Regions from separate parts of the Homo sapiens genome. Here region 2 is linked to region 1. The links come from fine-mapping of genetic effects on gene expression. A gene starts in region 1. The other region holds a variant in brackets. All regions are shown on one strand. Distances are from middle to middle. Region 1 holds the start of ORMDL1 (ORMDL sphingolipid biosynthesis regulator 1). Region 2 overlaps ANKAR (ankyrin and armadillo repeat containing).

Region 1 (16,403 bases):
GTCTCATTTAAACATCATTAGTCATCCATACATTCTGATGAATTATAATGTCTTTTTCAATCACTGAGCTCCTTTAGAGTTAGGATTACTGTTAATCTGAACTGGTCTCATACCAGACATGTCAGATAACTATCCTCTATATTATTCTGCCTACGACATTATTTTAATCATGTGGCTCCTCAAAGCCAATAATATAAAGCTCAAATCTCTAAGTTGGCATTTGAGGTCCTTTATAGATCCAACCTGCAGATCCAAAATCTCTGTTGGTAACTGGAAATCCTTTGTTCAAACAAACGAAAAATCCAAAAACGTCCTATGGAAATTCCATCTGTAAAGCATGCAGGGAGGGGGGTGCTTTTTGCATCTTATTGCCTAATTTCAGAAAAGATTACAGGAAAATAAGCACAAGCTTGACAACATGCAATTCCTCTGCAGAATCAAGATTTTATTGGACCAAAAAAAATGGGGGCTGGGGGTGGACTCAAGGTACTTTGTTTCCCATGACTAGTTACATGCTCCTATGATGATTTAATCCTATGCAATCTAGGTGCAAATAAAATAGCAACACCGAAAACAAACACAACAAAAAGTCATCAGTTTAGGATTATTTCTCAGGCAGCATAAGACAAAGACATGTAAAGAAAGACTCAGTAATTGAGTAGGAAATGGAGTACAGGCACTATAACAATTACACAGGAGTTTAAGGAATGCACTTCTGGGAAGAGGCCGACATATTGGGTTCTGAGAGTGTTAACTGATCACAGTTCATAAATACAGTATATTTTGCTATATAGAAGGCAAAGGTGATTGGCACAATGAAAAAAATGTAACAGACCAGAGCCTATAAAATAGGTATTGGGGGTTCACCTTTATTACACATAAACTCAGCAAATCACTGAAATCCCTCCATAAATCAATTTGTCATCTATAAAAATGGAGCAAATCACTCAAATCCCTCCATAAATCAATTCATCATCTGTAAAGATGGAGCTAATACCTCACTGGTTTACTGTGAAGAATCAAATAAGGAAGAATATATAAAGTGTTGTTCTACAAATGATAAGGCCTTATAAAATGTAGAGTATTATAATAAGAGATCATTATGTAAAGGAATGCTGAGAATTCTTTTTAAATACTAACTACCCTCTAATTAATCTATATATTTGATTTAGTTTTGGGGTACCCAGTTCTCAGGAGAGCAGCTGTGAACAACTACCTTTCAATAGTTGTTTTTGTTGTTCTCAACAGCTGGGAGGCTTTCCTGTCCCAATCAAGCAGGGAAACAGTGGACTATAGGCTACTCCATCATCATAACATTCACACAAATTAGTGCTGTCACAAGCAAAAGGCACCTCTGCACTTTTCCAAAGCTTCAGAATTACCTCGATCTAAGGGACAGATCTGCACTGTCCAATATGGTAGCCATCAGTCATATGTAGCTTACTGAACACTAGAGCACTAGAAACGTGGGTAGTCCAAATTGAGATGTGCTAATACACACTCAATTTCCAACTCAGCATTAATAAAAATCATATCAATTTTTTACATTGATTATAGGATGAAATGATTTTATCCTATTTGGATACACTAGATTACATAAAATATATTATTAAAACTAACCTTTTAAAAAATCTGTTTAATGTGACTACTAGAAAATTTAAAATGATAGATGTGGCTTATAGTTCCATTGAACAGTGCTGGATAGAGCAGTGGTTAAAATGGCAGGCTCTGAAATCACACTACTTTGGTTTTATCCTAGCTCTTACACTAACAGATATGTAACACTGAGGAAATTAAACTCTCTAAAATGCAATCACCTAATCTATAAAATGGATCTAATAATGATATCATATGATTGTGGTGAGAAGTAAATAAAGTAGTATATATAAATAATGTATTACAGTGTTTGGCATATAAGTGCTAAAAACATCCCAGGATACTGGGACTAAACTGAGCTCCTCTAAACCCCTAAATGAACAATCCCCCCACCTCTAACCCCTACCCCAAAGGGGCTCACACATTAGGCCTGGGTTCAAGAAGTCTTCCACCTCAGCTAGGAAATCCCAAGGATCTAAGAAAAACACTGATCAACAAAACTTTGGGGTATAAACTTAGACTGACTCCTTCTGAGCAGTCTTAATCTCATCATCTTTGTCTCGTTTCCTATAATACCTCATCTCCTACAATGCCAAATCCAAGATCTTTTTTTTTTAAATCTCTATAATTGCATCCCAATATTCCTCATTCTTCTAGTTTACTAAGATCATGGCAATTCATAGCATGAATTCTGTCACACTTTATCTACCCCATCCCATTGCATCCTCTGGTCTTAAGATGTCTGCATCTCTTTTCATACTCTTCTTCCATGTCATGTCATCTTTCTTCTCTCCTAATTGCTACAGTCTGAATATTTGTGTCTCTACCAAATTCATAAGCATATGATATCTGTATTGTCTCCATTTTATAGATTAGCTGATTGAGTTTTAGAAAGTTTAATTTCCTCAGTATCATATAGCTGTTAGTAAGAGCTAGGATAAAACCAAAGTAGCGTGATTTCAGAGCCTGCCATTTTAACCAGTACTCTATCCAGCACTGTTCAACAGAACTATAATGTACATACATCATTTAAAATTTTCTAGTACTCACATTAAAAAAGCTAAAAAAAAAATAAAAAAGTGAAGTTAATCTTAATTACGTATTTGGATAATCTAATATATTCAAAATATCAAATATCATTTTGTCCTATAATCAATGTAAGATAACTGTAAAGATTAAATTAATTAAATTGTATAATTAAACCTACTACATCTTTGTCCTGAACTGTAAAACTTTTTTTTTCCTGCTGTACAACTTTTGAATGTAGGAAATTATGTATTATGTATCTCTGGATGCCAGGCAGAACAATCAAATGCTTCACCCATGGCAAGCCCTTCACTTCATGAATATTAATGAAGGACCACTAAATATAATTTATCAGCATCTTTCTTATGCTAACGCAAACATTAGAAAAAGTATCCTCCTTCCCTTTATATACATAATTTCAATTGGCTTCCACACCATCCTCCAGCTCACCTGTATCTCACACTTTTTTTCTGGACTTTAGGGCCTTACTTCCATCTACCTTCTAAATATCATCATTTAGATGACCTGAAGGCAACCTAAACATAACATGTCCCAAACTGATCAGAGAATCTTTCTCTTTCTTTTTTTTGAGACAGAGTTTCAGGTTTCGCTCTTGTTGCCCAGGCTGAAATGCAATGGCACAATCTCCGCTCACTGCAGCCTCCACCTCCCGGGTTCAAGCGATTCTCCTGCCTCAGCCTCCCGAGTAGCTGGGATTACAGGTGCCCGCCACCACACCTGGCTAATTTTTTGTATTTTTAGTAGAGCCAAGGTTTCACCATGTTGGCCAGGCTGGTCTCAAACTCCTGACCTCAGGTGATCCGCCCGCCTCGGCCTCCCAAAGTGCTGGGATTACAGGCGTGAGCCACCACGACTGGCCTCTAATCAACTTTCTTCCTATATTTCTTGTTTGATAATAAAAGTAATAGCCAACATGAGAATTTTATATATATTATCCTATTTAATCCTCACAACAACTCTACGTATTCTATCATCCTTTATCACCAAATAGGATTTAAAGGCATGGTAACTTGCTCAAGATCACAAAACTATTAAGTGGCAGATGCACACCTTGGCATGTTTGACTCCAAAGGCCATGCTCTCAAACACCTTCCATCCAAGCACATAAAGCAAAATTAGAAACCTTGAAGTCATCCTAGAAATTCTACTCGCTCTCTACATCCTGCCACCCAGTCATCTCTCTCCTACTATCTAAATGTTTCCCAAACTAGTCCTCTCCTCTTTGTACTGCCTCCATTCGGCCTTTCTCTCCTGAACTACTGCAATAACCACCTAATTGATATTTTGACTCGAATCTCAACCACCTATAGGGTTCTTTCTGTATTTAAATTTCATCATGTTGCTGCCCCACTTAAAATTTTTATAAAGGTTTCCAATTGCCAACCAGGTTAAGTACAAACTTCTTAACAACTGGATTTTTGCCTCCTCTCCCAGTCATCCCATCGTTGCCCAAATGTGCTCTAGGGCGATCATACTGCACAGCTCGTCTTTTTTTATTTTTTATTTTTTGTGACAGGGTCTCACTTTGTTGCCCAGGCCAGAGTGCAGCGATTTTGGCTCACTGCAACCTCTGCCTCCCAGGTTCAAGCAATTCTCCTGTCCCAGCCCTGCAAGTAGCTGGGATTACAGGAGCGCACTACCACGCCCGGCTAATTTTCGTATTTTTAGTAGAGACAGGGTTTCACCATGTTGGCCAGGCTGGTCTCGAACTCCTGACCTCAGGTGATCCGCCCGCCTTGGCCTCCCAAAGTGCTGGGATTACAGGTGTGAGCCACCGTGCCCAGCCAACTTGTCTCTCTTAACATGGTGACACTCACTCCTTCCTCAGCTCACATGGTTCTCTCTCAGCTGACTTCTAATCATCCTTCCAGATTTAGTTCAGTATCAACTCTTCAAGCCTTTCTTCCCTGCTGCAGCCTCCTTTCCTTCACCTGCCAACAGATTAGGTATTCCTTCCCCTGCAGTCCCCCTTTACCTCATTTCTAATTAACCTCATCACAAGTTACTCTATTAATATGTGTTTCTGTCTGTTGCTCCTGACTCAGAGTTCTTTGAGGACAGGGGTTTTATATCAATCACACATCGCTAGCATAGCCCCTGGAATATAGCACTCTATACCATATGTGTACCAAATGGAAGGGTTTATATCGGGCTTACAAATCACAGCAAAGAATGTCTGGGAATATCAGGATAGTCAGTCTTCCATATTTGCTGGGAGGGAAAAGGAACACTTCTGAAGAAGTGCTGATGACCCGGAAAGTCAGTTAAGGACAACAGGTGTGCCTAAAAAAGAAGTAAAGATCAGAGAACTCACAGACTTCCATTAGAGAGAACACAAAGAAATCATTTATTTAAAGATCAGACTAAATCCAAAACAATTAGGTTCACAAAGCCAACAGAAATGCAAGATACAGACATACACAGCCAACATTCTCTTAAGTCAATTTCAAAATGTTGAAAGCTATTTCGGCAATAAAAATCACAAACTTTCTGCACTGCCAAGGTGAGGGAAATTACATTTCAAAGGCGATTCCAAAAAAACCTAATCAAGACTTTCCTCAGGATCAATTTTTGGTATTCACATTTCCTTAGCATGTAATACAGGTGCCTGTCTTCGGCGTACGGATAAACCCAGAAGGCCAAGAGCAAAAATCGTGATTAACTTTAAAGAGTTTAACTTGCACCCCTTGTATGATGCCACAGGATACAATACTATAAACCGCCACTCACACAAGATGAGTTACAGTTGCCATGGGTTAAATCTGCTGCCTGGAAAACAAATTTTAAGTCCTCCACCCAGAAGGGTCTGGGGAATGGGACGCAACAAAGACCAAGCCAGAACACCCCGGAGCCCAGACCTGCTCAGAAAACGCGTTCCACGTGTGCGCGCCCGCAAGCCCGGCTTCGCTTCCCGCCCCGCGGGGAGCGCCCTTAGCTGCCCTATAGCGTTCGCGCCCGGACCAGGACGAGTAGAGGGGACGGGGCCCTCGAGCCATCGAGGATATAATAAATACCCGTTAGTCACACCACACTACCTTCCTGCTAGCGCGAGGCAGGCAATTACCATCCACTAGCCGCAAGCAGCCAGCGTCTCACCCGATGCGCAGGCCCAACCCCGCACCCGCACCCGCACCCAGCACGCACGCGCGCGGCAGAGCGGGTGCAGAGAGCGCGGCACTGAGTCCCGCCTCGCCCGGGGGCAACGTGAGATTGGCGCTGCTCGCAGCCAATCCGCTGGCAGCGAGTCTGTCCGGGAAAGCTTCCGCAAGCTGCGCAGCGCCGGGCCTGAGGGCGTGTATCCGCGGCCGTAGCAGCCGGGCTGGTCCTGCTGCGAGCCGGCGGCCCGGAGTGGGGCGGCGGGTAAGTGGGCACGAACGCGGTGGACGCTGTACAGTCGCCTTCGTCGGTAGGGAACTGCTGGCGGCCTAGGGGTCGTCCTGAGAGGGAAAAGCGGGCTCCGGCTGCATCTGCGGCGCCCTGCGTGGCCGTAAGAGCCAAGTGGCCTCAGAGGCTCGCCCCCTACGCAAATCCTCGTTGTCTTGCCAGGGTCCTGACGTGACGTGCGGCCGCGAGAAGGAAGGGGCGGGTTGGGGGAGGCGCTGAGGTGGTAGCAGCGGCGGCTTTTGCTGAGTTTTCTCTGGCCCAGAGCGCTCGGGCTGTCGGTCTAGCAGGGGGGACTCCCCTGAGGGGCCGCTGCGGGTCGCCGTCTTCGGAGGCACCGGCGAGGGCAGAGCCAACAGCCTCTTCACGGTCTGTAAGGTCATTGTTTGCCAGTCGTGGGCAGCGCGGCAAACCTGCTGGGAAAAGGTTTTCTGGTTGGAATAGGATGAGTACCGCACCAGCTTTGCCTTCCAGCTGAGATGTAAATTTCAGGCCTCCATCCTGTGGAACGTGGGAAAACTATCTTGAGTGTTGGCATGTTCTAAGTATGACATAATAGTTTAATGTATGATAAATCATGGGTGTTTAGACGAAAGATTTACACATATAAATTGGAGGCTTTAGCGGTCTTAGTGTAACTAACTTTTCGTCCCCTTAACCCTTGATGCCTGTTCTATGGGTCTCTAGAGCGGAAGGAGCATTATACTCCGGAAACATTTGCTGGAAGGGGTTATGAGAAATTCCTCTCTGTATGCTAACTCCGTAATACAAGCGTTTGTGTATTTTAAAATCACAGCTGTTCCAAATATAATCTAGCCTCGTTTTCCCCCTCCGTCGGATGATAGGTGTTCTTCAGGACAGTTTTATTTTAAGCAATTCTTAGTCTCAAGTAAACACCATCATTAAAAGAACTGAGAACTATTATCAATTCTTCCTTTGGAGTCCATCTTCAATGGAAAGGAGAAGGGAAAACCTTTTTTAAAAAGAAGAAAGAAAACTGAAGTTTTTGATTTGACTAGAGAAATATTCAGAAGACTCCTTATTTTCACCTAGTTTAATCACAAAATTGAGAAACAAACATTATCCCTTGACCATGTAAATTTTACACCACATTATGTCAACAGCATGTACCTTCCACATTGAGTATTCAGAAAGAAGTGATCTGAACTCTGACCATTCTTTATGGATACATTAAGTCAAATATAAGAGTCTGACTACTTGACACACTGGCTCGGTGAGTTCTGCTTTTTCTTTTTAATATAAATTTATTATGTTGGTAAATTTAGCTTTTGGCTTTTCACTTTGCTCTCATGATATAAGAAAATGTAGGTTTTCTCTTTCAGTTTGAATTTTCCTATTCAGTAAAACAACATGCTAGAAAACAAACTTTTGGAAAGGCATTGTAACTATTTTTTCAAATAGAACCATAATAACAAGTCTTGTCTTACCCTAAAGTCAAATGCTGAAGATTCTTTACTGCTGTCATCAGCATCTACAAGTAGCATATTTTGGATGGTGTTTGTGTGCTACTTCAAAGTAACTAGGAAAAAATAATCCTCGCAACACAGGTACCTTGTCATGTCAGAATTGGGGGTGTTAGGTTGCCAGTTGTATCAGTGTTGATTCATTTCATTACTTCCTACAGAGCAAACATGAACGTTGGAGTTGCCCACAGTGAAGTGAATCCAAATACCCGTGTCATGAACAGCCGGGGTATGTGGCTGACATATGCATTGGGAGTTGGCTTGCTTCATATTGTCTTACTCAGCATTCCCTTCTTCAGTGTTCCTGTTGCTTGGACTTTAACAAATATTATACATAATCTGGTAAGAATTTCACATTATACTAAACACTTAAAAGTTTTAAGTTTAGTGGTTGCCGGAAATTAAGGGGAGGAAGGAATGGAAAGTTATTGCTTAATGGGTACAGAGTTTTTGGTTTTGCAAGATGAAGAGAGTTCTGGATGTGGATGGTAATGGTGATGATTGCACAACAATATGAATGTTTTTAATACCACTCAACTGTACATTTAAAGTCCCAGCACTTTGGGAGGCCAAGGCAGGCAGATCACAAGGTCAGGAGTTCAAGACCAGCCTGGCCAACATGGTGAAACCTCATCTCTACTAAAAATACAAAAATTAGCCGGGCATGGTGGCGCATGCCTGTAGTCCCAGCTACTCGGGAGGCTGAGGCAGGAGAATCGCTTGAACCTGGGAGGCAGAGGTTGCAATGAGCCGAGATCATTCCACTGTACTCCAGCCTAGGTGACAGAGTGAGATTTCGTCTCAAAAAAAAAAAAAAAGTGTCTAAGATGGTAAACTTTATGACATGTGTGTTTAAACATAGTTTTTAAAGAAGCTTAAGGTTTTGTGTTGTATACAACTTAGTTTTTTTAACAGCTTTTTTGAGATATAATTCACATGCAATAAAATCCACCCATTTAAAGTGTATAGTTTAGTAGTTTTTAGTATATAAGACTTAATTTTGAAGAATTCTAATCTGGGATAGAATTTTCTTTTTTCTTTCACGCTTTATTTCAACATTGGTCCTTTTTCTAAGTAAGACTTTTTTTTTTCTCATTGTATAGAATCTAGAAAATAGATCATTTTAGTTTCAATCCTTGTTAACTTATCTATCTAAATAGTGTAAGTATACTTCACTGTTTCAGTATTTAAGTTTTGAACTTAATCATCTTATGTGATTCAGGATCTTATGGTGCCTTAGCTGCTGCTTGTTACTCTCTTGTGTTAGCTCTACAGAGTATCAAAGTTTTGATTGACTGTACTGACCATATTATGCAGCCCTGGAAATTGCCTTTTACAAAAACAAAAAATCTTGACAGCGACTTTTCTTGTCTTTAATAACCCATTAAAGTAACGTGAAAAGGAGGAAATACAGTTAGTTGAGGATTTTAATTGAATCCAGTTTAGCAGTACATTTGTTGAAAGATATTTTTTAAAATGAACTTAAAGCATTAAGACAGGAAAACAGGAGAAATTGATTTTTAAAAATTAATATTTATTTTGGCCAGTCACGGTGGCTCATGCCTGTAATCCCAGTGCTTTGGGAGGCTGAGGTGGACAGATCACTTGAGCTCAGGATTTCAAGACCAGCCTGGGCAACATGGTGAAGCCTGAAATTCTGTCTCTACAAAAAATACAAAACCTTAGCCTGGCATGGTGGCAGCACATCTATAGTCCCAGCTATTCGGGAGGCTGAGGTAGGAGAATCGCTTGAGCCTGGGAGGTGGAGGTTGCAGTGAGCCAAGATCGTGCCACTGCACTCCAGCCTGGGTGACAGTGAGACCCTGCCTCAAATAATAACAATAATATTTATTTTCTATCTTCTGGAGTATATTTGAAGTTGACTGGAGGAGGATAAGAATGATGTGCTGGTAGACATGATAAATATGTGTCCATTTAGTCCATTTTATGTGATAGACTTTGTAAGAGCAAACGATGTTTTCTTTTAAATAGTGACTTCTCTGAAATATTTTACACTAATCATCTCACTTTTGTTGAAACTTCCTTTGGCTTCTATAGGATCACTTTCACCGGCATATATTTCTGACCTTCTCTTTCTTCTTATGGGGTCTTCCTTCTCTTTTCCTCTCTTAAATATTTCTATTCCCAAGGTTCTTTTCTTCATCTCTTCTTATGCTATGTATTCTACCTAGGTTACTTCATCTACCCATATTTTCAGTTTCTACCTGTAGAATAAGGATGCTCCTATTTATTTTTATCACCAGATTACTTTGCACCTTAAACCAAACAAGTATAAATGGAACTTATCTTATTCCTGATTACTCCCTTACCACCCACAATCTGATCCTCTGGCTTCACTACTAATCTTATCTAAAGGCCAAGCCAGACAGCTGAATGTTAATGGTAAAGCAATTAATATACAGGTTGAGCATCCCTAATCAGAAACCCAAAATAGAAAATGTTCTAAAATTAGAAACTTTTTTAGCACCAGTGTTGTGCCACAAGCGGAAAATTCCATACCTGACTTCCTGACAGGTTGCAATTAAAATGCAATCAAAACTTTATTTCATGCACAAAATTATTAAAGATACTATATAAAATTATCTTTAGGCTGTGTGTGTATGATGTATATGAAACATAAATGAATTTCATGTTTAGACTTGGGCCCTGTCCCCAAGATATCTCATTATGTATATGCCGATATTCCAAAATCCAAAACAATCCAAAATCTGAAACACTTCTGCTCCAAAGCATTGTGGATAAGGAATACTCAACCTGTAATGTATAGTCCAAACAGGCTGTTTAGAGAGTAAAATGGAGCTTTGGTAATAACTACTACAAGAGATTAGGTATAATCAGAACCATCGTATGCAAACAAGAATACAAGGTCACCTAAGTCTTAGGATAACTTCTTTTCCTTTATATTCCATATCCATTTGCTCAGAGCACTGTCTTCTACTGCTTTACTCTCAACTTGATCCCCATACCCTCATTTTTTCCTCAAGTAAATTACTCAGATAAATCAAATAGTCTTCTTGATGCTTCTCTACCCTTCTCCATTCCAGCTTGGCAGAGTGATGTTTTAAAAATGCATGTTTGCTCAAGTCATACTCTAAGTCATTCAGTGATCATCCATTGCAGTCATGGTAAAATCCAAGTTTCTTGTGTGACATATAAGACCAGTTGATAACAGTGCAGAAACAAGGAGACTTCACCTTGTCTCAACCATCTCTAAATAGAGGCTATACACTAGCAATAAAGAAAATCATCTTGCTCTCATTTTATTGTTTTGGCTTAAGCTTTTCTACTATATTTTCTTTTCACCTGGACCAAGTACTCTTTTGTTTTTAAGAGACTGGCGTGATCATAGCTCCTCCCACCTTAGCTTCCCAATAAATTTGAGGACTGCAGGCACATGCCACCACACCCGGCTAATTTGTTTTTATTTTAATAGTGATAGGCTCTCACTATGTTGCCCAGGCTGGTCTTGAACTCCTGGCCTCAAGCAGTCCTTCTGCACCATCCTCCAAAAGTGCTGGGATTACAGGCATGAGCCAGCATGCCCAGCCATTTTGTTTTTCTTACAGAGACAGGGTCTCACTCTGTTACCCAGGCTGGAGTGCAGTGGCATGATCATAGCTCACTGCAGCCTCGAACTCCTGGTCTCAAGTGATCTTCCTGCCTCAGCCTTCCAAGTAGCTAGGACTATAGGTGTGTGCCACCATGCTCAGCTGATTGACTGATTGAGATGGGGGTCTTGCTGTGTTACCCAGTCTAGTCTCAAACTCCTGACCTCAAGTGATCCTCCTGTCTCAGCCTCCCAAAGCATGAGTGAGCCATAGTACTCAGGGTCTACTTTTATTTTTTTTGAGATGGAGTCTCTCTGTGTCATCCAGGCTGGAGTGCAGTGGCGCAATCTTGGCTCACTGCAACCTGCACCTCCCAGGTTCAAGCAATTCTCCTGCCTCAGCGTCCTGAACAGATGGGACTACAGGCATGTGCCACTACACCTGGCTAATTTTTGTATTTTTAGTACAGATGGGGTTTCAACATGTTGGCCGGGCTGGACTTGAACTCCTGACCTCAGGTGATCCACCTGCCTTGGCCTTCCAAAATGCTGGGATTACAGGTGTGAGCTACCATGCCCGGCCCAGTCTCTACTATTTTAATACCTCTCCCTCCTTCCTGCTCTGCCTGATTTCCTACAGCAAAACTGTCCCTCCAGGAATCTACACAACTCCCATGCTGCATTCTTTTATCATGTGTTTGTCATTGTTTTATAATTAGCAGTTTATCTCTTTATGTTTTAATTTTTGTATCGCTAAGAACGTATTTAAATGTTTGCCGAATAAGTTAGTCCTTTTTTTTTGAGACGGAGTTTCACTCTGTCACCCAGGCTGGAGTACAGTGGCACGATCTTGGCTCACTGCAACCTCCCCCTCCTGGGTTCAAGCGATTCTCCTGCCTCAGCCTCCTGAGTCGCTGGGATTACAGGTGTGCACCACCATGCCTGGCTAATTTTTGTATTTTTAGTACAGACAGGGTTTCACCATGTTGGTCAGGCTGGTCTCGAACTCCCAACCTCAGGTGATCTGCCCGCCTCGGCCTCCCAAAGTGCTGAGTGTGAGCCACCACGGTTTAGATGCCATCCCTGTACCACCACCACCCCCTAACCGTGTTTCAAGTTGGTTGACCATGGACAAATGATTGGTAATTGACATTGTATAGAAAAGCAAACTTCTGATTTATTTGTTATTAGTTCACCACACTAAAAACTTAATTAGCCATCGGAGTTGCAATTACATGACTCCAAATTTAAGTTTCCTTTGAATATAGCCACATTAAACCAATTAAAAATCTGAAGTACATATTGAATGCCTTTAAAAATGAGAAAATGGACCTAATTGTTACACCCGGTTAGAAAAATACAGTATATTTGCCTTTCTGAACCGTACAGTAGAAACCTACAGTGGTTGCTTTATTAAGTGCTACCTCACCCTTAGAGGTATTAATGCTTCACAGGATTCTTGGCCCAGCTTTAAAAATGAATGATTCATTTTGATTCAGTAGGTATTTAGTAAGGACTAAGCATGAGCTACATACTTTTGTTCTCTAATTCTTTTAATGGAGGAATAATAATCACAAACATTTTTACATAAAAACAATTTAAAAAATATTGGGGCAGTAGATATATGGCCAGATAAGATTTTATTATTTTTCACTGAAAAGATGTATAAAATAAACTGTTTTGATATTCTAAACACTAGTTAAGTACATATGGTTTGAAGGAAATAATGAGAGGATGATTATTCTCTTATATTCTAATATCTATGTGGTCTGGAATAGATGTTCTTAACTTTTTGGGGGTCCTATACCCCCGATGATTTGAAAACATATACTTTCTGTTTTATAATTCACTTTAAAGTCCATATGAAAATGGTTTCGTAGAGCTTACAGAATAAATACTCCTTGGCGTAATGTCATCTTCCAACATTTCTAATGTTGGAAGTGTCCAATGTCTAATGTCTTGCGGTGTCCCAGTGCTTATTCCGAGTGTATTCAGGCTAATGGGAAAACAAACATCATGCAAACAACTCTAACATGATATATTGTACTGTAATCGTATTTTCAATAAAATTGTATACAACTACATAAAGAGGAGATTAATTATTACTAATGAGGTAGGTTTTTCTAAGGAATTGTTATTTGAGCTGAACCTTTAAGAATGAGGTAATGAAGTAGCATCAAGACTTTTGGCACAGCAACAAGGAACCTTTCCCTCCCCTGCCATTTGCTGAGTATTCTGATTGTACCTTTGATAGCAATTTCTGCCCTACTTTCTAGCTGTTTATGCATTTTTTTTCCTTATCATCTCTTGGAGGATTGAATTTTTCCAAGGCTTGGGTACATCTCATTCAATTTCATATGTGCATATATGTCCTATGTCTTGTACATATAAGCCACCTATTAAATGTTTGATGGGTTAAATCCAATTGAACATGAGTCCTTTCCTCCATAGCTTACGTGTTATTGTAGCTAAACGACTTCTGAATTGCCTACTGGAATAACTAGGAAGTAGACTAAGCCTTGAAAGGAAGGGCTTGGTTAAGTTGGTATCATATAAAATTTCAAATCCCTAATTTTTCTATATAATCATTAAAAGTAGAGGTAGGAAAAATGACATCACATTGTGGCGTCTAGAAGGAAAAACTTTGTGTCATGATAATATTTAGGCATTATCCCTTTACATAAAGTGCCTCAAGCAGTGATCCTGAATGAAACACTGCCTATGAGTCTAAATGGGTATCATAATCTCAAGGAAACCAAATCTATAGATTGGTTTTTTTCTACCCTATTGATAAAAAAAATTATATGTTTAGACATATGATCTGACAGAATGGCTTTTAGTAATGTTATTTGCTTTGAGTTTTTAAAACTGACTTCAGAAGAAATGCTATTGAGGCACAATAGCGATTTAAAAAGGGAATTGAGTGGAACATTATACCTATTATATCAAACTATTTTTATTGCTTTGGAAGAGAACTATTAAGGCAAAGGCAGTCATCATATTAAATATCTCAAAACTATTTTTCCCAATAGATTTTAATCATTTTATTGTTTTCTACCACTTTGTATGTCTTTATCATTTTTTAAGTATCATCAAATTTACTAATATACCCTGAAGAAAAACCTCCTGTACATTGGGGAAAAAGTAATCCTATTTCCTAATAGGAAAAGTGTAAGAAAATCTGAATGTAAAGATATGAAGCTACCCTGATAATTATTTTTAGTTTAACGAATAGAAATGCAAACAGGTTACTTTCAGTTGACCTTTTACCAATTCTCACTTAATATTTTTATACCCCAGAAAGTTCTATTTTATTATAAAGAAACTGGCTACAGCCTTTCACTATTATATGAAAGCTTAAAACGAACTCAGTTAAATCACACACTCTCACAAACAGCTTGGAACCTCGTTAATGCTACTGACAAAGACTAATTTTGTATTTAATATTGATCATTTATAACCCCTTGCTTGTTTTCCAGGGGATGTACGTATTTTTGCATGCAGTGAAAGGAACACCTTTCGAAACTCCTGACCAGGGTAAAGCAAGGCTCCTAACTCATTGGGAACAACTGGACTATGGAGTACAGTTTACATCTTCACGGAAGTTTTTCACAATTTCTCCAATAATTCTGTAAGTGGCAGAAATTTTTAGGTATGAGGAGGATTGGATAAGAGGAAGATATCTTTTCATCAGATTGAATTGGAATTAGAAACATATTTTGTTGCAAACTTCTATCAATAAGTAGCACCTCGGATAGAACATAAAATATAGACAAAATTTTTAACAAGTTGATAATAAACTAATTTTCACTTCAGTCAGTACATATACGGAGACAATATTACATGCTAATCAGTGCACCTAGACATTTAGGATATACAGGTCAAATGTATTCCAGCTCCCGTCCTTAGGTTTCATATAAGGACACAAAATACATAATCATATTCTATATTGCACTGTCAGATTAATCTCCTTAAGCAATGATTTAGATAATGAGAAGAATTTCACTGGCCACCTATCCTATTAAGATATTCAGACTCCTTGGGAAAGAGTATGGTTTCGAAAAAAGTAGGTCAGGCTTTCATTATAGGATAGACCTGGGTGGAGTCCTATATATATCACTCAGCCAGCTTGGTTTGCTCATATATAAAATTCTAGCTAGTGATACCTAATTCAATCCTAATGCTGTAAGAAATAAATGAGATAATAATCTACCTGGATAGCATGTAACCTGTATCTGGTATCTAATTTCTTTCTCCTATCTGATGTTCTGGGCCTTCCAGAAAATAGTTCTTACCTCCTTTTCCCTTGATGTAAATATTTTATCCCCACCCAACTCCTACCTGGCCTTCTAAGCAGCATTTCTTGAATATTTCATGTGTAGTCCTATTTCTGTCTTTGTTCAAATCAGTTCAAATCATATCTCCTACCTGAAATGCCTCCTCCTTTTTTCCCCAGCTTTACTGAGGTATAATTGACAAATAAAAAAATGTATATATGTTTTATTTTGTCTCTCCAAAGAATTTATAAGTGCATGGATTGCTTTGAATCCCACAGTAAGTACAGTGGCCTACACATAATAGAGGTATTGCTCATATATCTTAATACTCTGTACCATCTAGCCTATACATAATAATGTCCATGATAGAGTCAGTGCAGCCTGGCATAGCACAAAAGACTTCTTGGAGGTGTTGGAAATCCTTATGTTAGAACTTAAGAGAGACTAGGTTTTAGATATTTAAGTAAGGGAAGGCATTTTTAAAGTGAAAGGAATAAACTGATCATAAAATAATGGGGTTCTTTTTCCTTAATTTATAGCCCTTTGAGGAAATTTTGAATTGATTTAGTCCCATATAATATTAACCTCAAAGAAAAGTGTCAGTGTAGTCTGATAAAAATAAATGTAAGCTACATGGGAAGCTGAGGCAGGAAGATGGTTTGAGCCTAGGAGTTAAGAGGCTGCAGTGAGCTGTAGTCACACTGCTGTACTCCAGTCTGGGCAACAGAGCAAGACCCGATTTATTAAATAAATAAGTGAATGAATGCATGCATGCATGTAATAACAAAAATATTGGTTATTCAGATGGCCCTGAATTTGGATTTTGGCTCAACCCCTTTGAAGCTCTGTGACTTTTGGCCGTTTTCTTCAAAAGCTCAGTTTTCTCATCTGTAAAACATTGAGGATTGCATTATAATACATGTAAAATGCCTGACATTCAGAAGTTTTAATCACAGCTATCACACAAAAAGCCAACTGAGATGTACCTGTATACAGTGTCCATATTTCTCAAAATGTATTTTTGACCAACAGGTATGATTTCAAATATTC
Region 2 (15,151 bases), 30 kb after region 1:
TCTATACTAAGAAAAATCCTTCTGCCTTGGGATGCTGTTGATCTATAACCTTACCCCCAACCCCGTGCTCTCTGAAACATGTGCTGTGTCAACTCAGGGTTAAATGGATTAAGGGCGGTGCAAGATGTGCTTTGTTAGACAGATGCTTGAAGGCAGCATACTCGTTAAGAGTCATCACCACTCCCTAATCTCAAGTACCCAGGGACATAAACACTGCAGAAGGCCGCAGAGTCCTCTGCCTAGGAAAACCAGAGACCTTTGTTCACATGTTTATCTGCTGACCTTCTCTCCACTATTGTCCTATGGCCCTGCCAAATCCCCCTCTCCGAGAAACACCCAAGAATGATCAATAAATACTAAAAAAATAAATAAATAAATAAATAAGAATAAAATACTCTACAGATGAGTATACCTTTAAGCTATCAATTTACAACATCTGAATAGTGAAAAAGCCTGGTATTTTGGAATCACAGTCCTGTATTTGAATCCTGAATTAAGCACTTGGTATTGGCTCTGTAACTGTAGGCAAGTTCCATATCCTCTCTGATTCTGTTTTCACATCAGTAAAATAGGAAAATTGGCTGGGCGCTGTGGCTCACGCCTGTAATCGCATCACTTTGGGAGGCCGAGGCAAGTGGACCATGAGGTCAGGAGATTGAGACCATCCTGGCTAACATGGTGAAACCCCATCTCTACTAAAAATACAAAAAAAATTAGCCAGGCGTGGTGGCGGACGCCTGTAGTCGCAGCTACTTGGGAGGCTGAGGCAGGAGAATGGCGTGAACCCGGGAGGCGGAGCTTGCAGTGAGCAGAGATCGCGCCATTGGACTCCAGCCCGGGCGACAGAGTGAGAGTCTGTCTCAAAAAAAAAAAAAGGAAAATTAACATCTGCCTCATAGAATTACGGGAGGGTGGCATTAGAAATAATGTATGTAAAGAGGCAGATTGAGCCTCAAACAATAACTATGTGAAAGGGACTGTGTTGGATATTAGTAAGGCACTGTGAAGTACTGCAAAGTCCTTGGTTTAAGGAAGCTTAACTTGATTATGGAGACATGATGTCTAGACCTACAAGGAGAATTAATAGTGCAAGGCAGCATAGCATAAGGAAAAACAAGTGGTGCAGACAGTAACTATTATTACCGTGCCTCAGCTTCACAGTCCTTTCAGTTTTTCCTGAGTGCACTGAACTTTTGAACATGTAAAAGTTAATGGCACAGAAAGGACTACCCTGACCACTTTATCTAAATTAGGTACTCCCATCCTATTTATTCTGTATCATCATACCCTGCATATTTTCTTTGTAATACTTTCACAATTTATACATTTGCTTGTGTATGTATAATCTCTCTCAGTAGAGTCTAAGTGCCAAGGTGACAGGGGCCATGTCTATATTAATCACTATGCTATGCCTAGTGCCTAACACAATGTTTGACACATCACAGGTGTTCAGTGGCCTTTCGTTAGGCCTTCAGTGAATGGAGATGGAAAGAATATTATAACCTGTGTTAGTTCATTCTTGCACTGCTATAACGAAATACCTGAGACTGGGTAATTTATAAAGAAAAGAGGTTTAATTGGTTCGTGTTTCCACAGGCTGTGTAGGAAGCGTGGCAGCATCTGCTTCTGGGGAGGCCCAGGGAGCTTTTACTCATGGCGGAAGGCAAATTGGGAGTAGGCGTCTTACATGGCAGGAGCAGGACCGAGAGAGGGGGGGTGAGGTGCTACACACTTTTTTTTTTCTTTTGAGATGGAGTTTTGCTCTTGTTGCCCAGACCAGAGTGCAATGGTGCAATCTTGGCTCATCACAACCTCCGCCTCCCGGGTTCAAGCGATTCTCCCCCCTCAGCCTTCAGAATAGCTGGGATTATAGGCATGCGCCACCATGCCCAGCTAATTTTGTATTTTTAGTAGAGATGGGGTTTCTCCATGTTGGTCAGGCTGTCTCGAACTCCCGACCTCAAGTGATCCACCCACCTCGGCCTCCCAAAGTGATGGGATTACAGGCGTGAACCACCACTCCCGGCCCACACTTTTAAACAACAAGATCTCATGAGAACTCATTGACTATCGCGACACAGTACCAAGGGGAAAATACGCCCCCATGATGTAGTCATCTCCCACCAGGCCCCATCTTCAACATTGGGAATTACCATTCTACATGAGATTTGGGCAGGGACACAGATCCAAACCATATCACTAAGTGAGCATTGTCAGCAAAGACAAAGAAGTGAGAAAGTACTAGACATTCAGTTTAGCTAGAGCATAGGTCACTTGAGGAGACTACTGGGCAAACAGGCTTCAGTGATACCATCCACCTGGCTCATCTCAGCATTTTTTGAATACCTATAGCTGCCAGGCAATACTTAGGGCATTTGGGATACAAATATAAATGAGACATATGACTCTTGCCTTTGAACAGCTCACCATATAAGTGGGTTAGAGTGTAGGCTTATATTCTGGTTCAGCCATTTACTAGGCTTATATTCTGGTTCAACCATTTACTACATTTGATACTGTGCACAGTTTTTTGTGCCTCAGTTTCCTTATCTGTAAAATGATAATAATGACCACTAACTCAAATTAATGTTGTGAATATTAAGTGTGAATTCCTTTAAAGCTTTTAGGGCATTCTTCTTGAATAGCAAGGGCTGAATACAAGCTAGCTCTTAGTAACAATAGTAGTTCTACTACTACCATCAGTAAAAATGAAGAAGACAGTAAGCAGATCATTGTGAAACAGCATGGAAAATGCAATAATAGAGGATTACTTGGCAGGAGGAGTCCCTTCTTCCAAGCCAGAAACCTGAAGGACACCCTTGACTTCTCCCTCACCATTCCACATCCAAATCAGTCATCCATTCATAGTAAATCCATCTCCCAAATATTTTTTGCAACTTTCCTCTCCCTTCTCACTGACTGAGTTCAATCCCTTATTGTCTTTTGCACAGACTCTTGGCTATAGCTTCAAGCCTCAGTGGTTTCCCTGCCTCTTTGTTAGCTTTGTTCCATAATCCACACTCCATACTGTCTACAAATCATAGACAAAAATACATTGTTATTATTAATTCTTTGAGAATAAAGCCATGTTCTTATTTGGCCCTAGTGTTTAGCATAATCCCTGGAAGATAAAATACACAGAAAAGGCATAGAAAGGAAAGGAGGGAGGCAAGACAGAGAAGGAAGAAATGAGTTGCAGGGAGAGAATTTGGATTTGATGTCTCCCAAATTCCATGAAACTAAAGGTTTTGAGTAGGGGAATAACTGGTAGCATGTGCTTTAGAGTATTCTCTGGCAGCAATATAGGATGGGCTCTAAGGATCAAAGGACAGAGTTAGGAAAGTACAATTAGAAGACTGTTGAACAGACTGAGATGAGGGCTTTTGAGACTTGGCAGTGGGAGTGGTGATAAACTTAAATGCGGAGAGTGAGGGAGAGAAAGGAAGTAAAGATGAACTTTGAAACCCAAGGGTTATTTGATGCCACTAACAAAGATGAGGAATATAAGAGAAAAAGTAGCTTTGAAGAATTAAGGAAAATTATATTACAATGTGGATGTGTTGAAATCAGATCATTTCATTTATATCCCCCTCATTGCCTGAAACAATATTTTAATTACTCAGCAAATATTCATTGAATGCACTTACTGAGGATTTTCATTTCTACACATAGAACTAGTAGATCTTGCAACATCAAATATTGGAAGATGATTTTTTTTTGAAACTAGCAGTGCGTTTTGCAGACTCTATTTTATTGCTCCAGTTCTCATATTGTAAATCAATCACATGGTAGCAAATTTGTTGCTAGCAAATTTGTCTCTTAGTTCTTTACACTTGATATTTGGAGTGGCCATCCACCATCCTACATGGACCAAAAATCCAAATTACAAACTCTGAGCACCAGATTCCCAAACTGTATTTCAGGATTGCAAGCTATCTGCTATCCTGCTGTGACCTCAAGTGGAATGTGTTTTAAAATAAACTCGTCGTCTTTATAAAACTGTCTTCATGTTTCTCTTTTAGAATTTCTTTTCTCCCGGTCATTCCAGCTGAATAGCTGAACAAACTTTGATGCCTTAGTCCCCCTGTCCCTTTATATTCAGTTAGTTATTATAGTTCTTAAGGTTCTCTGTCCCTTTCTTTCCATTCCCACAATCGCCCAGTTTAAGATATAATCATTTTACACAAATACTTTCGCAGTAATCTCTCTTAAAATCTTCTGTCAGCAAGGAAATTAATTTTCCTTAAATACAATTTTTTCCTGTCCTTCCCATGCTCAAAACTTGTATGGAATGCTTTACAAGATTATTTTGGTGATTTCATTTGTCAACAAACAAATCCATGGGAGTCTGTTGTGCATAAACTGAAAAAGTCAGAAACATTATCCCCTTAATTACTGCTTACTGAGTTTTAACCATAGTGTGCTATGTTAGAAGGCACACAATTAGAAAATACTTGACTTACTCAGCTATATAATGATTAACTTGAAGACATGCTTTTAGCTGTAATATCATTTTTCTTCATTTTTACAATCTTAAAACTACAAAATGCTGTCTTTCTTTCTTTCAGAACAGGTGGGATTGTTCCTCCAGCAGCTCAACAGCTTCACAGAGAAAATATTCAACGAATAGTACAAGAAGCTCTTTCTGCCAGTGGAGTCTCTCCAAGTGACCTCTCAGCAATTGCAACTACCATAAAACCAGGACTTGCTTTAAGCCTGGGAGTGGGCTTATCATTTAGCTTACAGCTGGTAGGACAGTTAAAAAAGCCATTCATTCCCATTCATCATATGGAGGCTCATGCACTTACTATTAGGTTGACCAATAAAGTAGAATTTCCTTTTTTAGTTCTTTTGATTTCTGGAGGTCACTGTCTGTTGGCATTAGTTCAAGGAGTTTCAGATTTTCTGCTTCTTGGAAAGTCTTTGGACATAGCACCAGGTGACATGCTTGACAAGGTAATTAAGAATTAATTTCTCCATTCTTTTTTGTTATGTTGTCCATTTCAACTAAGTAGCAATAGATGTGCTACCACCATTCACCTAAATATTTCTGAATTTTATCTTAGTAAACTGAAAAAAATTCACATATGGTGAGAAAAAATAGAAAGAGTAGTACACAATTTTATAATTCTTAGCCTTTCTTAATAAAATGGTAAGAGGTTCATATCTGTACATAAAGGCTGAAATAGTTTGCAGATACAGTTATGTATTTTGCCAAATAATGTATGTGAAAGAACGTGCTTCGTAAACTAACATACTGCAAAAAAGGTAAAATAAGAGAATATATATAGATTAACATAAGGACATTAAAGATGCAATGCACAGAATTAAATCACACAATTACTTACACCACAGACAGGGTCCCCCCCCACCCCCCTTTGTTTTAGAATACTACAGAGGCTACTGCCATATATAGGAAAACAAACAAACAAACAAACAAAACACTGCTTCCCACAGTGAAATAATAGGAAGTATAGGACAAGTTCTTATTATTGACGTTCATCATTAAGCAGTTATTGTCAACTTCAAGCCCATTTTCCAACCAATAGAAGAGCAAACATAGACAGGGGCAGTGATTGGCCTCTTATTGTTCGGGTCATCATAAGGAACAGGGTTGTCTGCTTACCTGAATATCAGCTATAGTCTATATTTGCCAAAGTATAGCATGTTTTATTCATTCAGGGGTTTTTTGTTTTGTTAGTAATTTTCAATTTATTTCCTTTGCATCTTTTCGTTTCACAGTATTTAATTTTATGACTCTAAAAAATATGTTTCTTTGATAGGTGGCAAGAAGACTTTCTTTAATAAAACATCCAGAGTGCTCCACCATGAGTGGTGGGAAAGCCATAGAACATTTGGCCAAACAAGGAAATAGATTTCATTTTGACATCAAACCTCCCTTGCATCATGCTAAAAATTGTGATTTTTCTTTTACTGGACTTCAACACGTTACTGATAAAATAATAATGAAAAAGGAAAAAGAGGAAGGTATATTTCTAATTAGTAAAGTTGAACAGATAAATATTCCTGGATTGTGCCTAAAAATAGCTGCTCATTTCTGCAGGTATTGAGAAGGGGCAAATCCTGTCTTCAGCAGCAGACATTGCTGCCACAGTACAGCACACAATGGCATGTCATCTTGTGAAAAGAACACATCGGGCTATTCTGTTTTGTAAGCAGAGAGACTTGTTACCTCAAAATAATGCAGTACTGGTAAGTTTTATCTCATTTTATAGTAATAGTTACACTTTGCAATATGTTACTTTTTTCCCAAGACCTTGACCTTGTGTTTAGGATGAACAGATCTTTATGCCTTATGCTAGCCCTGACAGTATGAAATTATGCAGGATAGGAAAGACTAACAGCCATTTCTTGTACTAGTTTGGTAGCTTTATGGGACAGCTGTATAGCTTCTATGGCACATAAGTCTAATTTTGCATCTTCTTGTTGGATTTAAAAGAGGGCTTACAATAAAGAAAGTAAATGCAGTAACTGCTATCACTATTTTTAGAAAAATAGGTGGATTTCCTTCATCCTTTGATGAAATCCCTTTGTTTGTTTGTTTTTTTAATAAGCCAGTCAAATTTAGCAGTGGGAGGTGGTATACCAACTTTCGTGACACTAATGTTGATAAAGTTCTGATAATCCACTATATTGTACCAGCCAAAATCCCTTTAATTGTGCTTAAAAGCCTTGACAAACATCCTGTTTAACTGTATCTTAAACTTTATTCATTTAAAAATTATAAACTAAAGTGGGAAAATGTTTAAATGGTAGTAATTCATAGATGGAATTTTACATGGATATCAAAGAATAATTTTTTCAGAGTTATGTAGTAAAATGCACAAAATAATAAAAATTTCAGGGTCTAAAATAGTGTACTATGATTGAAATTATATTAAATAAATATTTAGATGAAAGGTTGGAAGAAAATATACAAAAATGCTAGTAATGTTTGTATGCTATTAGAATTATTAGTAATTTTTTTCTTTCCAAATTTTTATTACATAGATATGTCATCTGCCCATTACCCATCTCAAAATGGGATAGTTTATTATTGTTTAATGCTGATATTTTTCTCCAGGTTTAATTAGCAGCTTGGTTCATATCCATATATGATAGTTATTTTGGTTTTCTCAATTCCTTCAGGTTGCATCTGGTGGTGTCGCAAGTAACTTCTATATCCGCAGAGCTCTGGAAATTTTAACAAATGCAACACAGTGCACTTTGTTGTGTCCTCCTCCCAGACTATGCACTGATAATGGCATTATGATTGCATGGTAAGCCACAGGATATACGTGCTTCACTCATAACTATGTAAATATTAATTGCCATTTTATCATACTAAGCCTTCTTCCTTCAGATCTTGGAGCTATTGATTTTATTTTAATGCTTCTTATTTAGGAATGGTATTGAAAGACTACGTGCTGGCTTGGGCATTTTACATGACATAGAAGGCATCCGCTATGAACCAAAGTATGTGGTATCATTCATGATCTTTATGCAAGTTACATTACTTAAGACAAAGCCTGGATTTTGCCTTTATATATGAGGTTTTCATTGACATTCTGGTGGTACTTGAAGGAAAGTTACATAAATTTCTTTCATGAACCTAGTTAAGGTTGATACCATATGAGAAATATTTTTGCTACAGTATCAAATTATAAAAATCTTGGCAAGTTTAGGTGAGTTAGAAACAGGTCATGAGTAAGGGTGATGAATTCCCTCCTTTGGAACTAGAATGTAAACTATGTCCATGACCTGGACTTTTGCAATGTCAAGAACATCTCAGAACCAGCAAGTATGCTGGGAAATTTAAGGAAAACATGCAGAAAGCATTCAGGTGTGAGAGTGGGTTGTGATTATGCTCTTACACAGGCAGTTGAGAATTGGCCGAAAGATAGCTGTTTCCTGCAAGCCTTATTTCCTCTCCCAAATCAAAGTTCCAGTGAATAGCACAGTTTTTTCTTTACTTTTTTTCTTTTTTTTTTTAGAGTCTTAGTGTCACCCAGGCTAGAGTGCAGTGGCGCATTCTCGGCTCACTGCAACCTCTGCTTCCCATATTCAAGTGATTGTCATGCCTCAGCCTCCTGAGTAGCTGGAATTACAGGTTCACACAGCTGTGCCCAGCTCATTTTTTGTATTTTTAGTTTTTGGGTTTTGCCACATTGGCCAGGCTGGTCTCGAACTCCAGGCCTCAAGTGATCCACCCACCTCGGCCTCCCAAAATGCTGGGATGACAGGTGTGAGCCACCACACCTGGCTGGTTTTTCAAATTACTATCAAATTCTGTTTTAATTCTGGAATAGTAAAAGACAATTATTTTCATAAATAATTATATTTTGAACACTGTTTCATCTGATGTTTTAAAACTTGTCAGCATTGGCCAGGCATGGTGGCTCATGCCTGTAATCCCAGCACTTTGGGAGGCTGAGGTGGGCAGATCATCTGAGGTTAGGAGTTCGAGACCAGCCTGGCCAACATGGTGAAACCCCGTCTCTACTGAAAATACAAAAATTAGCCAGGCGTAGTGGCAGGCACCTGTAATCGCAGCTACTCGGGAGGCTGAGGCAGGAGAATTGCCTGAATCCTCGAGGTGGAGGTTACAGTAAGCCGAGATCACGCCACTGCACTCCAGCCCGGGTGACAGAGTGAGACTCCATCTCAAAAAAAAAAAAAAAAAACACAACTTGTCAGCATTATATTCCGTAACTTGACAGTTGTGCTATATATGAATTACATGTATGCTGATGATGAATGAACTGAATTGAGTTAGTAGTACCGGAAGGCATCCCTTTGATACCTTGTCTCAGATAGAGTATATCCTCTGATTCAGTTATGCCCCCTTGTGGCAGTGTTGAGGCTGGAGATAATGGCTTTTTCCAGGTTGGGATTCAGTCAAAGCAAAGCCTTATCTTGGACACCATGGTAGAAAAGCAGAAATCTGAAGCAAAAATTAGTTACTGAGGAGGAACAGAAAAAGACAGCAGGAACTAAGACCTCTTTGGCTAGTAATGGCAAAGGATGGTAGAAAAGGGGCAAGGCAGCTTTTGAAACTTCAGAGAAGAACCTATAGAAACCTAGGACATTTCTAAAATGTGAATGGATACAGGTTTGACTTTAGCTGTGTGGCAAAAATGTTTTTACCTTTTTAGCTTTGTAGAGAATTATAAGATATTTTTCATTATTTTTATATTTCATTTTATGTTTTTAACTTATTTACAGTATTTGAGAACAGCAAAACTGTTTCTTTCAAAAATATCTCAAAATTTAGATTTCTTATTAATGAGACTAGCTTTCATTATCCTGACTTGAGGTCCCAGTATATTTGTAAGTATTTAAGAATCATCACCACATATGATGAATTAAATATTTGATATTTATACCATCAGAATTCTAAGCAAATAGTCTGCAGAACTAGTGATGGATCATGAAGCAAATAAATAATACGATTTGTCTGCTTATGATGTAGATGTCCTCTTGGAGTAGACATATCAAAAGAAGTTGGAGAAGCTTCCATAAAAGTACCACAATTAAAAATGGAGATATGATTTCTGCTGTTCAAAAAAGTCCCTAAAGGTAGTATTAAGGTTAAAATTAAGTTTTTATTGTTTTGTGTATCAAATTGTAGAAGATATATAATATTAATTATTCATCAAGATTTTATTTTTTTTTTTCTATTTGATGTTTTACCTGCTCTTCTGAGATACTATAATGTGTTAAAAGTCTTACAAGGGAAGATAGTTTTTTTCTTTTAATTATTAAAAACCAAAATAAAACATCTTTTGAGAAAGGAATGTATTGATGCTGGCAGGTAGAAAGGAAGCTTTGAAAGAAGCACAGTAATTTTGCTGAATTCTGGCCCTGTATCATACAGGCCTAGGACTTTCCCCCACTTCCTCAAATCAGGATAGGAGAAGCTATTTTTTAACTCCTACTGAAACAAGAACCTGACTTTATAATGAGAGAGCAGTTTAATTTTTTTTTATCATTATTATTTTTTGGAGATAATCTCCCTCTGTCACCCAGGCTGGATTGCAGTGGCGTGATCTCAGCTTACTGCATGCAACCTCTACCTTCTGGGTTCAAGCGATTCTCCTGCTTCAGCCTCCTGAGTAGCTGGGACTACAGGAGCCCACCACCACGTCTGGCTAATTTTTTGTTTTTTTAGTAGAGATGGGGTTTCACCATGTTGCCCAGGGTGGTCTTGAACTCCTGAGCTCAGGCAATCTGCCTGCCTCAGCCTCCCAAAATGCTGGGATTACAGATGTGCTCAAGAGAGCAATTTTAGATCAGTCATGTCAAAGCAGACATTTCCAAATCAAGACAAAAGCTGACTTTCTCTAACATAATATGTTATTAATTTTAAGAGTTCGTTATTAGGTATCATCTCTGGAGTAAATAGGATGTCTATGCATTTTTTAAAATCTATATAATTTGAGGTTTTACAATTTTAACATATAAGTAATCCCTCAAGTATGTATTGTACGCTTTAGTTGTCCACATACTTTCACATCAGTTATTTGAGAAATTGTATATAATCAGATGGAAATAAATGAGGGAGTTTTTTTGGATTTTTTTTTAATCCAAACTTTGTACTGCAAATATTATAAGCTTATCACTGTTTTTCTGCCTTGATTAAAGTAACTAAATGTACAATTCTTTGAATGTAACCCTCTATATCTGGAGGCCTTTCTCATACATAATTTTTTATTTCGATTTTTATAGACAGCATCTTGCTATGTTGCCCAGGCTGGAGTAGAACTCCTAGGCTCATGTAATCCTCCAACTTCAGCCTCCAGGGCCTGACTTTTCACACATTGTTTAAAAAAAAAAAAACCGTGGAGTAATAAAAATAATCTTTTTTTTTTTTTTTTTTTTTTT[A/TA]GACAGAGTCTCGCTCTGTTGTCCAGACTGGAGTGCAATGGCTCGATCTCGGCTCACTGCAACCTCCGTCTGCCAGGTTCAAGCAATTCTCCTGTCTCAGCCTCCCGAGTAGCTGGGACTACAGGCAAGCACCACCATGCCCAGCTCATTTTTTGTATTTTTAGTAGAGATGGGGTTTCACCATGCTGGCTAGGCTGGTCTCGAACTCCTGACCATGTGATCCACCCGCCTTGGCCTCCCAAAGTGCTGGGATTACAGGTGTGAGCCATCATGCCCAGCCAATAAAAATAATCTTTATAGGGGAGATTTATAGGAGAAGTAGTATAAATTTTAGGAGTGGTAGGATGGTCTGGCTAGGCCAAGATACTCAGGAAATATCTGGCATTGAATGCAAAGAAACTCTGATAACCTGAAAATAGTCCTAAAGTATAGTCTTGAGCCTACCTGAAACCAGTTTCAGAGCTCAAAAGTTGCTCTCTAAAGGCTTTTAAAAATATCTACAGAAACTTAATATTTCCATTGTTATAAATTCTTATCCTTAATGGTGCTGGATAACACAATTCATCACTTGAATATGTATCCCTTTCTAGTATAAAATAGACCATTTCCCTCCGCATTTCCTATATTTCAGTCAATCCACCAGAAAGTTGTGACTCAGCACCATTAAGATAATTTAGAAGTAAATATGAAGATTAAAGAGGTCTCTTATTTTTTAGTGGTTAAGAACACAAACTTTGCATGGTAGCTCATCCTAATGCTTTGGGAGGCCAAGGGAGGAGGATCACTTGAGGCCAGGAATTCGGGACCAGCCTGGGCAACATAGCAGAGACCTCAGCTTCCTGAGTAGCTAGGGCTACACGCCTGTACCACCACACTCAGCATAACAAAGACTGAGAACCTGTAGCCCTAGCCACTCAGGAGGCTGAGGTGGGATGATTGCTTTGAACCCAGGAGTTATAGGCTACAGTGAGCTATGATTGCACTATTGCCGTCCAACCTGGGTAACAGAGCAAGACCCTGTCTTAAACAGACAAATAAATAAATAATAATTCATTCACCCACTCACTCACCCACTGACTTTGGACTCTAGCACATAGAAAGCCCTAAGTACATATCGGGGAAAATAACCGCTAATTAATATATACTTTCAATGCTTACTGCAGCCCAGGTAGAGAATGGATTATAGCAAGACCCTCAGACTGTATGGAGGCAATTCAGCAAGTGGATGGAGAAAAGGGGAGCTTTAAAGTACACAGTGAAGCCAGGCGCAGTGGCTCATACCTGTAATCCCAGCACTTTGGGAGGCCAAGGTAGGCGGATCACCTGATGTCAGGAGTTCAAGACCAGCCTGGCCAACATGGTGAAACCTCATCTCTACTAAAAATACAAAAATTAGCCAGGTGTGGTGGCAGGCGCCTGTAACCGCAGCTACTCAAGAGGCTGAGGCAGGAGAATTGCCTGAACCCAGGAGGCGGAGTGAGCCAAGATCCTGCCACTGCACTCCAGCCTGGGTGACAGAGCAAGACTCCATCTCGAATAAATAAATAAATAAGTAAGTAAGTAAAATAAAGTACACAGTGAAGCCAGGTGTTTGTATCATATCTATCTGCAGCTATAAAATAGGAGAAGCAGACATTGCTATTTGAGCAAAGACATCATATGGTTCTAAGCCACAAAGACTATTACCCTTTCCAGTTGCAAACCAAAGACACTATAAATATGGAGAATGAGCAACACTGTTAGCCACAAAAGCCATACTCATGTACTTGATGGGCAATGATTTCAGATTTTATTTTTAAATAAAACTTTTTTTCCCTTTTAAAAAATTTTTGTTTTATTTTCTTTTTTAATTTTTCTTTTCTGCTTCATCCACTGACTCTCAGACTTTTTTTTTTTTTTTTTTTTTGAGACAGGGTCTCACTCTCTGACCTCAGCTGGAGTACAGTAGCCAGATCACAACTCACTGCAACCCTGACTTCCTGAACTCAAGCAATCCTCCTGCCTTAGCCTCTTGAATAGCCGGGACTACAGGTGTGCATGTCCATGCCCAGCCAACTTTATTTCTATTTTTTGTAGAGACAGGCTCTTGCCATGTTGCCCGGGCTGGTCCTGAACTGCTGAATTCAAGTGATCCTCCCACCTTGGCCTCCAGAAGTGCTGGGATTATGGGTGTGAGCCACCATGCCTAGCCAAAATGTTTCTTAAGGTATACATTTTGGGTCTTAGAAGACTTATACATTTGTAATATTTATTACTAAATATCTCAAAGTATTACAATAAATGTTACCATGTGAGCTACTTTGAATCAGGCTTCTTGCACACCAATTTAAAAATGTTAACTCTTGATATATACACTAGTTATACCACTCATGTCAGTCAATAAATTTTAAGGTTTAAGTGCAGGCCTTTGTTTACAGAAATCCTAATTTTTTGAAACCATAACTCTGACCTGACACTAAATTCCTGTAGACATGCTAAGGAAAATCTGCTTAGTATCGAGATCAAGAACTTTCATTCAAAAAGATTATTCAGTTATGTTATTTGCATATTACCATTATTAAAAATAAAAAAATTTTTAAAAGATGGCTCAGGAATCCTTTCATTCTAAAATGTTTTATTAGCCTTCTGCAGGCTCTGGGTTGGCTTTCTGGACATGTTTCCCAAGTTGGTTCAAACACACTATTCTTGGTCTTGATACATTTGTGATATCTGATGTAATTGTAGATGAAAAAGAAAAAATATTATGGGAATCCTTGGTCTTTTTTGTTGCTTTGAAGAGTCCCATGAAGTTAGTTACAGGAGGTAATAAAGTCAAAGAATCTTTTGGTTGAATTTTAGGTTTTAATTTTCTTCGGTGCTCCTTCCCTAAAAATTAGCCACAATTAAATGTCTCTCCTGAGAGCCCTAGGTATAGTCTCATTACTTCTACTTCTATGTAGTTCTATTTTCTTTACATAACTAAAACATACTAAGAGAACAGATCAGTACTTCCAGACATTTAGATGTCAGGGGCCAAAAATTTGTGGGGACCACTATATGGTTTGCTAGCTTGTTATGTCAAGTTAGCACCAATAAGAGAACGAATACTACTTTAAATATCATTATGTAAAATAAAGAATATTTTAATACTAAAAAAAGTGTAAAAGGCATTATCTCAAAATGATGGACTTGATATTGAATGAAATTAATTTTATCAGAAACGTGCTACCTTGCCCTTATTTTTTCTTATGTTACTACAAACCTGTGAAAACTTCATCAGATCATGACTGATAAACAGGTTGTTGTTTAGAAACCAGTGTTAAAGTGAAGAGTGAACTGACTATTCTTTTATGTAAATTACTCTAACATTCAAGAAGCTATATAAAAAATGGATGCTTTTCTACCCATGATATTCTATATATATTTCTATATAGCCTCCCCACATACCTAGCTTCCCTCATATACTGGCTGAATACATGAAATTGTTTCCTCTCCTTTTACTGTCTTTTTAAATTCTCTTCCTTTCTGTTTGTGACTCTAGCAAACTGATCTTGACTTCTGAATGTTTCTATCCTTGATTTTCGTGATAGGACAACGTATCAAGACTGATTTTGGTCCTACACGAACAAGCACTAAGCAGATATGTGAAATTAACAAGTAATTTATATTCCCTATTACATATCTAATAGGAAGGGATAAATAATATGAGATCTGGACTCTGATCTCTGCAGATCTAGTCCATTCAAGTGTAATGTACCAACTATGTACAAAACTATATAGAGTATCAATGGAAAAAATGTGGTCTCTGCCCTGAGAATTCAGATAGGTAAGTTGTTTCAGATATAAAACAGCAAAGTCATATTTACAGGTTGTTTAAATAATGACTTACTTCTATGCATGGTTTGAGAAAAGCAAAATAAGACAGGAGTCACTTTCAAGTGATATAATAGGGAAGGCCTTACAGAAAATGATCAATATGGGCTTGTAATTAGGAAGATATTTTAGGTAGACAGAATTACAAAAGAGAAGTATGCAGGTAAACTTTTTTGTGGGGGTACCCTCTACTTTTTTTTTTGAGACAGAGTCTCACTCTGTCACCCAGGCCAGAGTGCAGTGGTGCGATCTCAGCTGACTGCAGCCTCTGCCTCCCAGGTTCAAGCGATTCTCCTGCCTCAGCCTCCCAAGTAGCTGGGATTACAGGCACGCGCCACCATGCCTGGCTAATTTTTGTATTATTAGTAGTAGTAGTAGTAGTAGTAGTAGTAGTAGTAGTAGAGATGGGGTTTCA

The links.
Region 2: its variant is fine-mapped to the expression of ORMDL1 in prefrontal cortex (CommonMind, PIP 0.95).

Annotation. Positions count from the first base shown.
Region 1 is chr2:189,773,869-189,790,271 of GRCh38, reverse strand. It overlaps ORMDL1 (ORMDL sphingolipid biosynthesis regulator 1), which reads left to right and starts at 5,933. Exons shown (of 5, transcript NM_016467.5): 1 at 5,933-6,003; 2 at 7,149-7,258; 3 at 7,670-7,850; 4 at 14,556-14,707. The coding sequence starts at 7,677. It overlaps PMS1 (PMS1 homolog 1, mismatch repair system component), which reads right to left and starts at 5,822. Exons shown (of 13, transcript NM_000534.5): 1 at 5,679-5,822. RefSeq lists enhancers at 5,405-5,454, 6,005-6,234, 6,245-6,304, 6,395-6,474, 5,760-6,646 and a silencer at 5,815-5,864.
Region 2 is chr2:189,744,978-189,760,128 of GRCh38, reverse strand. It overlaps ANKAR (ankyrin and armadillo repeat containing), which reads right to left. Exons shown (of 23, transcript NM_001378068.1): 23 at 13,482-13,749. The coding sequence ends at 13,502. OSGEPL1 (O-sialoglycoprotein endopeptidase like 1) reads left to right here. Exons shown (of 9, transcript NM_022353.3): 3 at 4,569-4,956; 4 at 5,784-5,988; 5 at 6,065-6,213; 6 at 7,150-7,280; 7 at 7,405-7,476; 8 at 9,473-9,579; 9 at 12,961-13,469. The coding sequence ends at 9,551. Among named protein-coding and RNA genes, the nearest start is that of OSGEPL1-AS1, 10 kb to the left of the region's middle. The variant A/TA (reference allele first, on the strand shown) is at 10,885.